Linked DNA regions of Homo sapiens. The protein of the gene in region 3 interacts with the protein of the main gene of each other region in a pairwise test. Each region holds a gene or a part of one and is shown on either strand. Other genes may lie near its edges.

What was found. The genes of interacting proteins can lie anywhere in the genome.
Region 1: the proteins of SGTA (region 3) and PLAAT4 interact in binary tests that used the Homo sapiens proteins (3 or more experiments, as listed by UniProt).
Region 2: the proteins of SGTA (region 3) and CTSL interact in binary tests that used the Homo sapiens proteins (3 or more experiments, as listed by UniProt).
Region 4: the proteins of SGTA (region 3) and FXYD7 interact in binary tests that used the Homo sapiens proteins (3 or more experiments, as listed by UniProt).

Annotation. Positions count from the first base shown.
Region 1 is NC_000011.10:63,539,530-63,543,390, forward strand, and holds part of PLAAT4 (phospholipase A and acyltransferase 4), read left to right. Parts: coding exon 1-95; intron 96-3,861. UniProt on the Homo sapiens protein: Exhibits both phospholipase A1/2 and acyltransferase activities. Shows phospholipase A1 (PLA1) and A2 (PLA2), catalyzing the calcium-independent release of fatty acids from the sn-1 or sn-2 position of glycerophospholipids.
Region 2 is NC_000009.12:87,728,841-87,732,052, reverse strand, and holds the end of CTSL (procathepsin L isoform 1 preproprotein), read right to left. Parts: intron 2,481-3,212; coding exon 2,318-2,480; intron 1,673-2,317; coding exon 1,555-1,672; intron 1,046-1,554; coding exon 946-1,045; 3' UTR 584-945; downstream 1-583. UniProt on the Homo sapiens protein: Thiol protease important for the overall degradation of proteins in lysosomes. Plays a critical for normal cellular functions such as general protein turnover, antigen processing and bone remodeling.
Region 3 is NC_000019.10:2,754,011-2,756,901, forward strand, and holds the end of SGTA (small glutamine-rich tetratricopeptide repeat-containing protein alpha), read right to left. Parts: intron 1,924-2,891; 3' UTR 705-1,923; downstream 1-704. UniProt on the Homo sapiens protein: Co-chaperone that binds misfolded and hydrophobic patches-containing client proteins in the cytosol. Mediates their targeting to the endoplasmic reticulum but also regulates their sorting to the proteasome when targeting fails.
Region 4 is NC_000019.10:35,145,977-35,149,837, forward strand, and holds part of FXYD7 (FXYD domain-containing ion transport regulator 7), read left to right. Parts: intron 1-2,717; coding exon 2,718-2,747; intron 2,748-3,861. UniProt on the Homo sapiens protein: Associates with and regulates the activity of the sodium/potassium-transporting ATPase (NKA) which catalyzes the hydrolysis of ATP coupled with the exchange of Na(+) and K(+) ions across the plasma membrane.

The DNA.
Region 1 (3,861 bases), on a different chromosome or scaffold from region 3:
CAAACCTGGAGACCTGATTGAGATTTTCCGCCTTGGCTATGAGCACTGGGCCCTGTATATAGGAGATGGCTACGTGATCCATCTGGCTCCTCCAAGTAAGGACTGATGAATATATAATTTTCAAAATATTTGTTAAAAGGATAATGAGAGGGCCGGGCACGGTGGCTCATGCCTGTAATCCCAGCACTTTGAGAGGCCGAGGTGGGCAGATTACCTGAGGTCAGGAGTTCAAGACCAGACTGACCAACATGGAGAAACCCCATCTCTACTAAAAATACAAAATTAGCCAGGTGTGGTGGCACACACCTGTAATCCCAGCTACTCAGGAGGCTGAGGCAGGAGAATCACTTGATCCCCGGAGGCAGAGGTTGCAGTGAGCCGAGATCGTGCCATTGCACTCTAGCCTGGGCAACAAGAGCAAAACTTGATCTCAAAAAATAAAAAAATAAGTCAATGAGAGCCACTGAAAGACAGTTAAGCAAGGGAAACTTGAGTTAGGAGACACATTCTTCTTAGAGGATGCTTGATGAGATTGCACACACATATGTCCCATGAAGTAGACACAGTGCATTCCATAGGTCCTGGCAGAACGGAAGAAGAGACCGTTGCCTCCCGCAGCGAAGCTGGGCTGCTTCAGCATTGGGATCTCTCCAGCTCAAAGTCAGTTACCTTGGCATGCAGAATCTCATACGACTTAAACCAGCCAGGTTTCTTAGGTCTTAAAGAAGAAAGTTTCTCAAAAGGAACAATGTTTCTCCGTGCCAGATCCTTTGCCTCATATGTTTTCACACAACAAGGTGTCTTGATATTATATACTTAAGATTCCTTACTGGGAGCAATTCTCACAGGTTTATACATTTTTTTAAAATTCTCATACAAATACACAGTAAGCAATACCAATGTTTTATTTAACTCATTAATAACAGAAGCAGAAATATGACATACCCAGTTAAAAGCAGAATGAAGGAAACGTATGTATGGATAGCCAATGAAAGGGGAAAAAACGAACACAGAGGCCAGGCACAGTGGCTCACTCCTATAATCCCAGCACTTTGGGAGGCCAAGGCGGACGGATCACTTGAGGTCAGGAGTTCAAGACGAGCCTGGCCAACATGGTGAAACCCCGTCTCTATTAAAAATACAAAAATTAGCTGGGGGTGGTGGCAGGCATCTGTAATCCCAGCTACTCAGGAGGCTGAGGCAGGAGAATTGCTTGAACCTGGGAGACGGAGGTTGCAGTGAGCCGAGATCCTGAGACAGTGCCACTGCACTCCAGCCTAGGAGACAGAGGAAGACATTGTCTCAAAAAACAACAACAAAAATGCAGAAATGAGACAATGAGACTGCCAAATTAGGTAGGTGCAGGCAAGTTCATATCCTCTAGGGCAGTGCCACTACATAACTTCTCATGTTCTCTTTTCACCAAGCATTTACATTGTCACTGGACAAAAACCATTCCCATCACTATCAGGGCAAGACATTTGCATCTTATCAGTTTTCTCCAAGCCATCATCTCCCAGGCAGGATTGTAAAAATGTCTGAATTGATGGAAAATAGTAAATCAAGCCCACTTAATCCAGATGATCCTCAGGGACCTTGTAAGACAAAGCATGGCAATGAAGACACATGGTCCTTTTTGTGCCTAACTTGCAGTGTGTAAAGAGGCTTTTTTTTTTTTTTTAAGACAGAGTCTTGCTCTGTCACCGGGATGGAGTACAGTGGTGCAATCTCAGCTCACTGCAACCTCCGCCTCCCAGTTTCAAGCGATTCCCCTGCATCAGCCTCCCGAATAGCTGAGGCTACAGGCGCATGCCACCACAGCCAGCTAGTTTTTTGTATTTTAGTAGACATGGGGTTTCACCATGTTGGCCAGGATAGTCTCGATCTCCTGACCTCGTGATCCACCAGCCTCGGCCTCCCAAAGTGCTGGGATTACAGGCATGAGCCACCGCGCTCAGCCGTAAAGAGGCTTTTTAAAGACAATTTTTCTCTCTTTCCTTTTTTTTTTTTTTTTTCCTCTGAGACAGTGTCTTACTCTGCCATCCAGGCTGGTGTACAGTGATGTGATTACAGCTCACTGCAGTCTTTTTTTTTTTTTTGCATAAACATTCTGATTTAATAAATGGTATGAATATATATTTTGCATACTTTACAATAAAGAAAATTTTGAAAGAAAATTGATCTAAAACTGTTTCCCTCCAATTTCCATGGTAAAGTCAACTGCATACAGTTCTTTCCATGTATAAGTTTTACATTTGTATTTTCTACAATTAAATAAATCTAAATGTTAAATTTTAGCACATATATCCAATTATGTACAAAATTACAATGTCAATTTATAAGTCAAGCTTACTTAAAAATCATAAATTACAAAAAACACATTATGAATAATTTTGTTCTGGAAGTATCATACCAACTCATACGATCTAGGTGAACCCAAAAGTAAAAAACAATGATTATAAATTACAGTAGTGTCTGTAAAACCCTGTTATAAAGGAGGTATTCTTTTAAAATATGTACCTTATATATAAAAGCTCCTGACTCCTTTTAAGGACCAAAATTATTTTCAGTTTAACCATTTTCATTAAAATGCTTATTTAAAAGTATCGCCTTATAAAACTGAGTATATAAAATACAATGCAGCCCTTGATAACTAAGAATCTTTATAAATGCTAATTATTTAGTGACCTGTTTATCAAACTATTTCTGTGGATGGGGTGATTTTTTTTCTTCCTCTAAATTAAGTGGCCCTAGACTAATATATTTATATAGTTATTCTGTTTTCTTCCGTACTGTCATTTCACATCTCTATCAGTGAGTTCCTCAGGATTTGCCTTTATTTTACAACTATGAAAGTCTTCAATCCAATTCCCTGCTTCCACACATAGGACACAGAAAGCCTAAACTTTCCTTTTTTCTGGGCTCCAATGGGAAGCAGCATTTACAACGTGTCTGGCTTGGTAGGAGGAAGATTGTCAATTGAGGTATCATGTGTGTTCACCTGCCTATCTTGCCCTATTTCTTTGGTTGCTGTAAATTTCCTGCTTCTCAAATATCTGGATTTTTGGCTACCTATTTGGCTTCCGTCTTTGGTGTTTATATCTGTCTGGTTTTAGCAGGTCTCTCTGATTCCTGACTCACAGCTCCTCTCCTTCACTAATATTCAAGTGTGCTGCTTGCCTAACTCCTCATTCCTTCTCCTTGAATTTCACTTTACAATTGCACTAGGTTCTATCATCGTTGGCCACAGATTACCACAAAACATAATTTCTTAAATTCTGCACATTTCTAATGCTTCTAATCTTGGTTTCCTACAAGATCTAACACTAAGCTTGTGTTATCCTGATTACAGTGTATGTAAAACAATGCTTGTGGAAAACTAACCTAGGAGAAAGCTTATAGGGGAAACCTGATAATGAATTTTATTAAATTAATAACCCTTATAAAAATTTCAAATGTAATACTACCTGGATTTGAACTTCAATACTTTTCTTAAGTAAAATTCTTAACCACGGTAGAAGTTATGTTTGTTGATGTTCACTCATCTATACCCTCCATATTCTCAGCAAAGTTGGCATAAATCTGACCTGAATAAATAGGGTTATAACATTATCAGGCTTGTAAAATACTTTATCAAATCAATGCATCAGTTAAAGCAGGGGTCCCCAACCCTGGGCTGTGTGTGGCCTGTTAGGAATCGGGCCACACAATAGGTGAGCTGAGAGGCAGGTGAGTGAGCATTCTGCCTGAGCTCCGCCTCTTGTCAGATCAGTAGTAGCATTAGATTCTCATAGGAGTGCAAACCCCATTGGGAACTGCACATGCAAGGGATCAGGCTCACTGCAGTCTTGACCTCCCCGA
Region 2 (3,212 bases), on a different chromosome or scaffold from region 3:
TGGGAAGTTTTTCTATTTAAAAAAAAATAAATCAGGTATTTTCAGGTAGCTTGCTCTAAATAGGGCAACAGATTGTCATTTCTAGCCTCTCACTTGTCTTTTATTTTCTGAGGCCAGAGCACCACTTCTGAACCCCAGCCTCAAACCCTGAAGTTTATTCCTCATCCCTTGAGGACCCAAAAACAAACAGCCTTGGCAATGCACTAGTTCTTAACCCACCTTGACTGCAAAGTGTCCACAGGGCCTTCACCAGCAGTGGGCGAAGATGCTCCAGAAACAGGCTGAGACCTTTGCCCTGTAACTTGACTGAGATGCAACCACTTTGGGTGAAATAAACACGATCACTAAAGTCCTTTTCTAGTATTAAAATTATATATATGTATGTTCACTTTTCTAAAAAGTGAATATTTTTCTTTATTCAAACAATTTTCCTTTGTCCTCATAGATCATTTTCAAATTTTGCTGCAATCAAGGATTGGTTAAGACATAGCCACTGGGCAGCTGACATGAGATCTGTACATCTGTGACTAGAAGACCCAGAAGGCCACCCACTCTTCCTCCTAGTGAGCCACTGGCACAGCAGTTATGGCTTAGAGCCCAATTATGTTCTTTATTACACAAAAATTCAGTGCATCAAAAATAGAAAGAAGCCCCACCACTACATTTGAAATTAAATTTTATTTAAACAGGTAAAAATTTATACATCCTTTTAAAAACGAAAATGCAAAGTCAGTAAGTGAATCAATAATATAAACCTATTTATAGCAGTAATTAAAATAGAGGTAACATTTACCAGTGTGAAAATATCACAGAATTCAAATCACACTCGGATCTTCAATGATTCGAGTGTGTATCCGACACAGCGGGGGCTGGTAGACTGAAGATGAATTCCTCCCATGCATGCGCCATCCCCAGTCAAGTCCTTCCTCATCACCGTCCACCAGCTCACACAGTGGGGTAGCTGGCTGCTGAGGCAATTCCACAATGGTTTCTCCGGTCTTTGGCCATCTTTACGTAGCCACCCATGCCCCATTCTTCACCCCAGCTGAAAAAAGAGCAGGTTTTCCATTTCAGAGAAAGAATAAAGCCCAAAGGGTTATTAACAGGAACACCCAACTTAAACACTGTGCCAGAGGCCATAGACTTAACAGAAAGAATCAGGACAGGCAATGTTCCTGTTTATCCTTAAAAAATTCTTGACATAACCTGGACATAATTTCCATCCCAGCCTCCAAACTGTGACCTTTCACAGAACTACAGATCAGAGACAGGAAAACAATAGGATGTCTTTGCAGCCAGATATGCCTCAGAATTTAAAAACTGTTCAGATTTAGATACACCTTTATACAATGGAACAAATACTATATTCATACTCCCAAGATATTTGTGACAGTTTCTTACTTTTATAATCAAACATTAATATTATATGTTCAACTTAGACTTCTGGGGATTTCAGAAGTATGCCTAAGGGCATGTGGAACTGTATCCAAACACTGTTTGCAAATAAGTATTCTCTTTTGAATTTCAAATGTAAGTATTTCTGGCAATTTATACCTGTTCTTCACCAGCCAATATTTATTGTTATCTGATTCTGTGCTTTCAAATCCGTAGCCAACCACCAGCACACCATGATCCATGTCTTCACTGCTACAGTCTGGCTCAAAATAAATGCCTGGGATGGTAAAATGAGGGCTGGGGTGAGAAGCTCCAGAGGACACATGACAGTAACCCATCCTGTCACCCACAGGGAATGAGGCATCTCTGAATTCAGTGAAGTGACACACATTCCAGATAGTACTTAACAACAATAAGAAGGCCAGGGATTTAAGCTCTCATTTACAACTAGCAGAAATAGAAATCAGCATAAATCCTTCATTAAAAAAAAGCTTTCCTAGAGGAAAAAAAGACCCCTCTTTGTAAGCTTGTAATTCTACTCTAGGATATCAATCTAAAAAAATAGCACAGAACACTAAAATCCTTGAATCAAAAGGCTCTTTTCGGATTTAATAATAGAAGTAAAAATCTTTGGAAAAATTATAAAAATCCAACAATTGCAGAATATTTTAAGTATATTAAACTACACAGTAAATATAGCTATTTATAAAAAGTTATGAAGTACTTATATTCATGGAGATATACGCAACATAATGTCAAATGGAAACATCAGGTATAAATATTGCATGTACAGAATGAACAACTATGATGCTAAGCACCTAAATATCTACACTGAACTTTACTTGCAAACCAGAGTCTATCATGCTCGTATGTCATGATACTCTTTTTCTGCATCAATTTCTACAAAGAAAAATATGCTTACCTTCTTTATAGAACAGGAAGGACTCATGACCTGCATCAATAGCAACAGAAATGGGCCCCACAGTTGCAACTGCCTTCATCAGGGCCTTCTCCTGCTTAGGGATGTCCACAAAGCCGGTGTCATTAGCAACAGAATACTTGGGATTGTACTTACAGGATTCTTCCTTTCAAAGGTAAAGGGAAAAAAAAGACTTGATTACTGCTGTCCTCCTCCTGGAGAACATGAGTTAGAACCACAACACTCAGCAGTGTGCAGCTTAGTATTTCCAAGTCACCACTGTTATAAATCATCCCAGGAAGTGAAATGCTATTAGTTAATCTGAAACTGAAAATTGACTCCAGTCTCTTCAATGAGACCTCTGGGTTTACTTCCATAAGACATTTTTCACAATAGAGAAATGTGTATATTTAGAATGGCTTGTATATTCTTCACGTTACATAGAAGCAAGAACAGCTATATGTTACCCATCTAATCACAGGATTGTGCAAAGGCTAATAATTTATAATGACAGTACTGACAATTTGCAGATATATATTCTGCCATCTAATATGTGAACTTTTTTTTTTTTTTGGAGACAGGGTCTCATTCTGTCACTCAGACTGGAGAGTGCATTTGCACAACCACCTCCCACACTCAAGCAATCGCCCTACCTCAGCATAGCTGGGACCACAGACGCACACCACCACAGCCGGCTAATTTTCGTTGTATTTTTGATAGAGTCAAGGTTTCACCTTGTTGCCCAGGCTGGTCTCAAACTCCTGAGCTTAAGCCATCTGCCTGGCTCAGCCTCCTAAAGGGCTGGGATTACAGGCGTGAGCCACCCCACCCAGCCCTAATATATGAATTCCGAAAAAGGTATCTGTTATCTCTTAAAGTGTCCACCTTCCAAAAGCTG
Region 3 (2,891 bases):
TGACCCATTCTCTCAACTGGAGCCGTTGTGAAAGGGAGGTGCCTTTGGTTACAGAATACAGAATTTATGGAGTTACAGTATGCTAGAAAAGCAACAGACAAAGCCAGGTGCGGTGGCTCACGCCTGTAATCCCTGCACTTTGGAAGGCTGAGGCAAATCACCTGAGGTTGGGAGTTTGAGACCAGCCTGACCAACATGGAGAAACCTCGTCTCTACTACAAATACAAAAAATTAGCTGGGCGTGGTGGTGCATGCCTGTAATCCCAGCTACTTGGAAGGCTGACGCAGGAGAATCACTTGAACCCGGGAGGTGGAGGTTGAGGTGAGCCGAGATTGCGCCATTGCACTCCAGCCTGGGCATCTAGGGTGAAAGTCTCAAAAAAAAAAAAAAAGCAAAGCAAAGCAACAGACAATACGATCACTCTCTGCTGAGGACCGAGGCATCTCACCCCACCCTGGGGTGACCCTCTACACCGGGATGCAGCTGGGGACGGAGGCGGAGGGAAGGGAGACAGCAGAGGGTAGAGGCTGACTGTCCGAAACCTCCCATGACCCGTGACCCGTGACCCAAGAAGTGCGGCTCCGGCGTCGCGGGGATTCACTCACAAGCAGCCCAGCTGATCCACAAACTCCGCGTCGGGGGTTTTCTCGAGGTTTGGGGTTGGAGGGTATCGGTGGCGCCAAGGTCAACACGAAGACAGACAGAGGTCACAACGCCTATTTATTCCCCACACGTCACGCCCTGCACCCCGGGTGGGCTTGGCACACACCTCACCGCCATGAGCGGCTGCAGGGCCGCGGCGGCCCCCGTTCCTACTGCTACCTACGATACACGGTACTGCGCCTACCTCACAGACGGCCAGGAGCCAGGGAGCCCCAGGATGCTCCGACTGACAACCCTGCTGCTGGGACCACGGCGCCGTGGGCTCGTCTGCCACCCCCAGGCCTCAGGAACCCAGACAGGCTGCCTGCTGTCCGGCTCTCCGGCTGCTTTCCTGGTGGCTGTTTTAGGGCCAAGGTGGGTGGCACCTGAGGTGTCCCGTGGCCTCCACCCAGCACAGGAGGGGTAAGCTTCCCTGGGGGGCCCCGGGCCCATGAAACATCCAGGACAGAAGGACAGCAGGATGGGACACAGACAGAAACGGCCCAGCTGCCTTCCCTGTGCCCGGGGCTAAGGCGGCCGGGACAGAAGGTCATGATGTCGCCCCTGGCTCTCAGTCGCGAGGACCAGAAAATGAGGGTGGGAGGAGGGGAAACATGTCTGTCAACATGCCCAACTGGAGAAAAGTCACAGAAACTGGTCCTATGCACCCAGGACGGCTCCTGAGCCGCGGAGGCGTGGGGTGACCGCAGCCGTCTCTTAGGTGTCTGCCACTAAAGAGTTCCTCATGCAAACACACATGGCCCGCGGTGCCCAGGCCGCAGCTGGCAGTGAGCTCTTCCGAGCAGGCACAGGGCCGGGGTGGCCGGGAGGTCGACTCGGAAAGAGGCTTCTCACAGACGGGAGAGTTCCTGCAGACAGACCACGGGATGGGGGGCGGGGGCTGTAAAAGGCTTTGGAAGCCACACGATCCGCCACACGGCTGAACGTGAAACCTGCCACTTCTCTGAGAGCGGCCCGGGAGCACCCCAGGATTCTAGAAAACACTCAAGTGACCGAGCTTTCTGGGGGCTGGAAGGGAGGTCGCTGCTGGTCTGTGCTCAGCTTGCTGGCTCTCGTTTCAAGAAGGGTCTGGGGGCTGTAAGGGAGTTACAAAAAGGGAGTGGAGGAGGGCAGAGATAAAAGGGGAAAATCCATCTTGACATGCAGGTCCGAGGTCTCTCTCTTCCCCTCTCTCAGGCAGTCCAACAGGAGGAAGTGGCAGACAACCAGAAGGCTTCCTTCGGGTCGGCCAGGGAAGGACGCGGTCACACCGGGAGCAGCTGGAAGGGGACAGACATGAAGGCTGTCAGAGCGCAGGTGGGGACCAAGGCTGCACCACACACTCCAGGCAGCAGGAGAGGCCCAGAGTGGACAGCCAGGGGCCACAGCGGCTATTTCAACGAACGTCAGAGCCACAGCTGCACCAGAAGCGTTCCACACACTCGGGGCCACGTGTGGCTGGTGGCGCAGAGAACATCGCCATGACCTAGAAGGGTCTACAGTATGGTGGTACTTTGTGTATGAGGTTACGGTGGTAAAAAATCCACCTCAACTATTAAAAAAAGAAAAGGAAAAATAAATAAAAGCTTATTTAAAAAAAAAAGGGAAGACTGGAAGAAAAGGCGGCCAAAATATTAATGTTGGTGGCTCTGGGTGAGAAGATTAAGGTTGGGCTGAATGCACGGCTCACACTTTGGGAGGCCGAGGCGGGAGGATCGCTTGAGCCCAGGAGGTTGAGGCTGCAGTGAGACGTGACTGCACCACTGCCCTCCAGCCGGGGGGACAGAGCAGGACGGTCTCAAAAAAAAAAAAAAAAGATTAAGATTGTTCTTGCTGCTTTTTAACATTTTTGTATTTTAAATTTGTCTACAGTAATTATGGTTTAAAAATGAAAGAGAGTGTATATGAGGAGGGGACAACGACAAAATGAAGAGGCCACATGGGAGCAGAATGGAAACACCTCTGGGGAGGCCCGGAGCCTCCCGCCCCCAGGGAGCCGGCGTCTGCTGGAGACAGACAGGACTGAACTCAGGGGAGCCTCCCACCCCTGGGAAGCCGGTGTCTGCTGGAGACGGACAGGACTGAACTCAGGGGCCCCTGGGGAAGGAAACCAAGCCAGCCACGGGCCCCTGGAACCCATGGGGGACACTGAGTGTATTTTTAAACAACTGTAAGTGCAACACCTGCTCACAGTGAGAAAAGGACAAAAAATCCCTCACAAAATGCAGGCAGAACGCTCGGGCGCAGT
Region 4 (3,861 bases), about 32 Mb from region 3:
ATGTTTCCCAGCCTGGTCTCAAACTTCTGGGCTCAAGCAATTCACCCACTTTGGCTTCCCAAAGTGCTTAGGATGACAGGCGTGGGCCACCATGCCCAACCCAGGATTAGCTTTTGAAAACAACGAGCTTTATTTTATAGCACCATCACAACTGGAAAATTAATCTTCTTTTTTTTTTTGAGACAGAGTCTCGCTCTGTCATCCAGGCTGGAGTGCAGTGGCACGATCTTGGCTTACTGCAACCTCTGCCTCCCGGGTTCAAGCAATTCTTCTGCCTCAGCCTCCCAAGTAGCTGGGACTAGCAGCGGCACACCACCACACCCAGCTAATTTTTGTATTGTTAGTACAGATGGGGTTTCACCATATTGGCCAGGCTGGTCTCAAACTCCTGACCTCGTGATCCGCCCACCTTGTATTCCCAAAGTGCTGGGATTACAGGCATGAATCACTGTGCCCAGCTGGAAAATTCATCTTCTTTTTGCCTTAAGTTGAAGGCAGCATAAGAGCAATCTGAAGCAGGTGATTTCGCTTTTCTGGGTCTGGTGTCCCCCTTCCAGGAAATGGGGATGAAGATCGCACCCATATGAAAGAGTTGCTATGAAGATTAAGAGTAAATGCGCTGATATCTGTCAGATGCTTAGCAGGGAGGCTGGAATGGAGTCAGGGCTACCCACTGCTGGTTACATCAATAAATAAAGGAGAAAACCAAATAATGCCACAAAATTCTGCCTAGATTTTATTGCCTGCTGAAGACTTGGAGCCCAAGGCCTGTTTTCTCTTAGGTAAAGGGGGGAGATTAACAAGGGTTGGAAGGTGGTAAAGATACCTCAGCACCAACCTAAGCCATCCTCTTTGAAGACTAGACAGAGACCTGGGAAGGGTAAACTTACACATTGTGTGAACCGTGGTCTTGCTTTGGGGCCACCTCTATCAGTCAGTTTCGGCTACAGCATGCTGTGGTAACAAACAGGTGTTGCTTTGGGGCCACCTCTATCAATCAGTTTCAGCTAGAGTATGCTGTGGTAACAAATAGTACCAAAAGTCTCAGGGGCTTATGACAACCAGGTTCACGTATACGTCCATCACAGGTTGACCAGTCACCAAAGAAAACTAGAGCAGTCACCACTGTGAACATTCAGGCCACCAGGCTAGAAGTGAAACAGAGCTTTGGCCTGGAGGCCTGAATGTTCCTGAATGTTTAAATGCCCCAGCCTGGAAGTGACAATGCACTTCTACTCACCGTTCCTTGGCCAGAATTAGTCACATGGCCCTACCCAACCTCCAGGGAGCCATCCATCTGAGCCTGGAAGGGGGAAGGAGAACACCAACGACATCAGGCATCACCCTGGCACCCCTCACCCTCTCCCCATGTGGCAGACAGTCTGCTGCCAAATTCTGCTCTAGGGAAGGCCAAATATAATAAGAACTGTCAGAGGCATTCGAGAACCATCAGGATGAACTTGTTGAATGGGAAGGATGTTCTGAGCTCTCCTGCAGGGGAACATGATTAGGGTCCAGGAAGGTGGGAAGTGGAGAAAAGTGAATCCAGAGACACACACACATTTTATCCACATGTGAACATTTCTGAAATCATTATGTGTCTTCTAATGGATGGGGACATTTCACGTGGTAGAGTTCCAAACATATTTACACATACACACACACACAGGGAAAACTATTACAAACTCAATTTTGAATCTTAAACTTGATGGTGCCTTAGAAATAAGTAATAATGGGCCAGGCATGGTGGCTCACATCTGTAATCCCAGCACTATGGGAGGCTGAGGCGGGCAGATCATCGGAGGTCAGGAGTTTGAGACCAGCCCAGCCAACATGGTGAAATCCCGTCTGTACTAAAAATACAAAAATTAGCCAGCAGTGGTAGTGCACACCTATAGTCCCGGTCCTTGGGAGGCTGAGGCAGGAGAATTGCTTGAACCTGGGAGATGGAGGTTGTAGTGAGCTGAGATCGCGCCACTGCACTCCAGCCTGGGTGACAGGGCAAGGCCCTGTCTCAAAAAAAGAAAGAAGGAAAGAAAGAAGAAAGAAGGAAAGAAAGAAAGAAAGAAAGAAAGAAAGAAAGAAAGAAAGAAAGAAAGAAAGAAAGAAAGAAAGAAAGAGAGAGAGAAAGAAAGAGGGGAGGGAGGGAGGGAGGGAGGAAAGAAAAAGAAATAAGTAATGTGGGGTATGAATCAGCACAGCTTCCCTGTACTGGATGGAGTATCAGGAGTGAGTGGATGTCAGCAGTAGCAGCAGGTGCCTGTCGGAGCTCTCAGGTGACTGAGAAGTTTTAGGGAGTATTCAGGGGAAGCTGAGACATTCATTGGTTCACCAGTGGAAATGGGGTCTGTTTTAACCTCATGACATCATGTGCAAGTGGGAGTGTGTCTGTGTTTTTCAGGGAATGAGTCCATAGCTTGCATCAGACCTCCATAGGGGTCCAGAACCAGGACTGCCATGTAGTTTGAGAAGATTGTACACTGCATAGAGGATGGTGCTGACTGATGGAGTGAGTAGGGGCTGGAATCCAGCTTGAGCTATGCTCTTCCAGCCTTGCGGCCTGCCATGAGGCCACATCATCCAAACCAAGGGGTCTCTATCTGACTTCCACAAAGAAATGATTAGGCCAGTGGCTCCATCTGGATCCTAAAAAATATTAAGAAATACACTGTTAAGTTTTTTTTTTCTTTCTCTTTTTCTCTGCTTCTTTCCCTCAGCTCCTGAGGAACCTGACCCATTTTACTATGGTGAGTGTTGGATTTGGGGATAGGGCTGGACTGGGGAGTAGCTGCAGGTGCTCACAGATCACTCCGGACATGGCTTCAGCTGTGGCCACACGATACGTGCTGGGCCACTGGCCACGGGACCATATATGTGGGTGTGGTTCACATCAGCTGAGTTCATGGAGGGCAGAACCAGATGGGGGAGTGGGGATGCCTCACACTCTCTCTGAGCCCCCTTCAGGTCTCACCGGGATCTGGGCTGGTGCCTTGGTGTCGCCAGAGAAGCAGATGAAGGAAAACCTTAGAAGCAATGACTCTGAGCCCAGGCTGCCTGGATTTGAATCCTGCCTTATCCACTCACTAGCTGTATGGCCTTGGGCAAGCAACTTTGCCTCTCTGGGCCCTTCTGTAAACAAGGGATAGTAATAGTTCCCACCTATGAGGACTGTGGGAAAGATACCTGACTGGTGGCATTAAATCTCCTCCATGGCACTGAAGCTCAAATAAGCTACCCCAGGCCTGGTAGATCGGGCTCCAGTTTCCCCTCTGAACACCCTCCTCTTGCCCCCACCCCACCCCTTTGCTCATTCATACTTTTTCCCTAGGTGTCAATTTCTCTCCCATCTCAGGACCTTTGCGTGTGCTATGATTCTGCAGTAATGCTTCTCCTTTGTACACGACCGGCTAAGGCTCCCCCTTATTCAGGCCTCAGATCAAACATAGACTACTCTACTGGGATAGGCCCTCCTGACTCCCTGGCAAGGAAGAGCCACACCATACTCAGCTGGTGTCGCATGACTTGTTTTTGAGGGGGATTGTTTCTTTAATGTTTTATCACAATACGAAAGTCAACTCCTTGCTGGTAGAGGCCTGGACCACTACTGGTACAGAGTGAGTGCTCCATAAATTCATATCTCAACAAATACTTAGCGGGCACAGGCTCTATTTCTGGCAATGTTCCAAGCAGCTGGAGACACTGCAATGAACCACACAGACAAGAATTCAAGAATGCAAGAATTCCTGCCCTCCTCCTGGACCTTCCACTCAATGGGAAAGGGACAGATACTCAAGAAAACAAAATATGAAAATTATATATTAGACAAGAATATTATTGGCCAGGTATGGTGGCTCATAACTG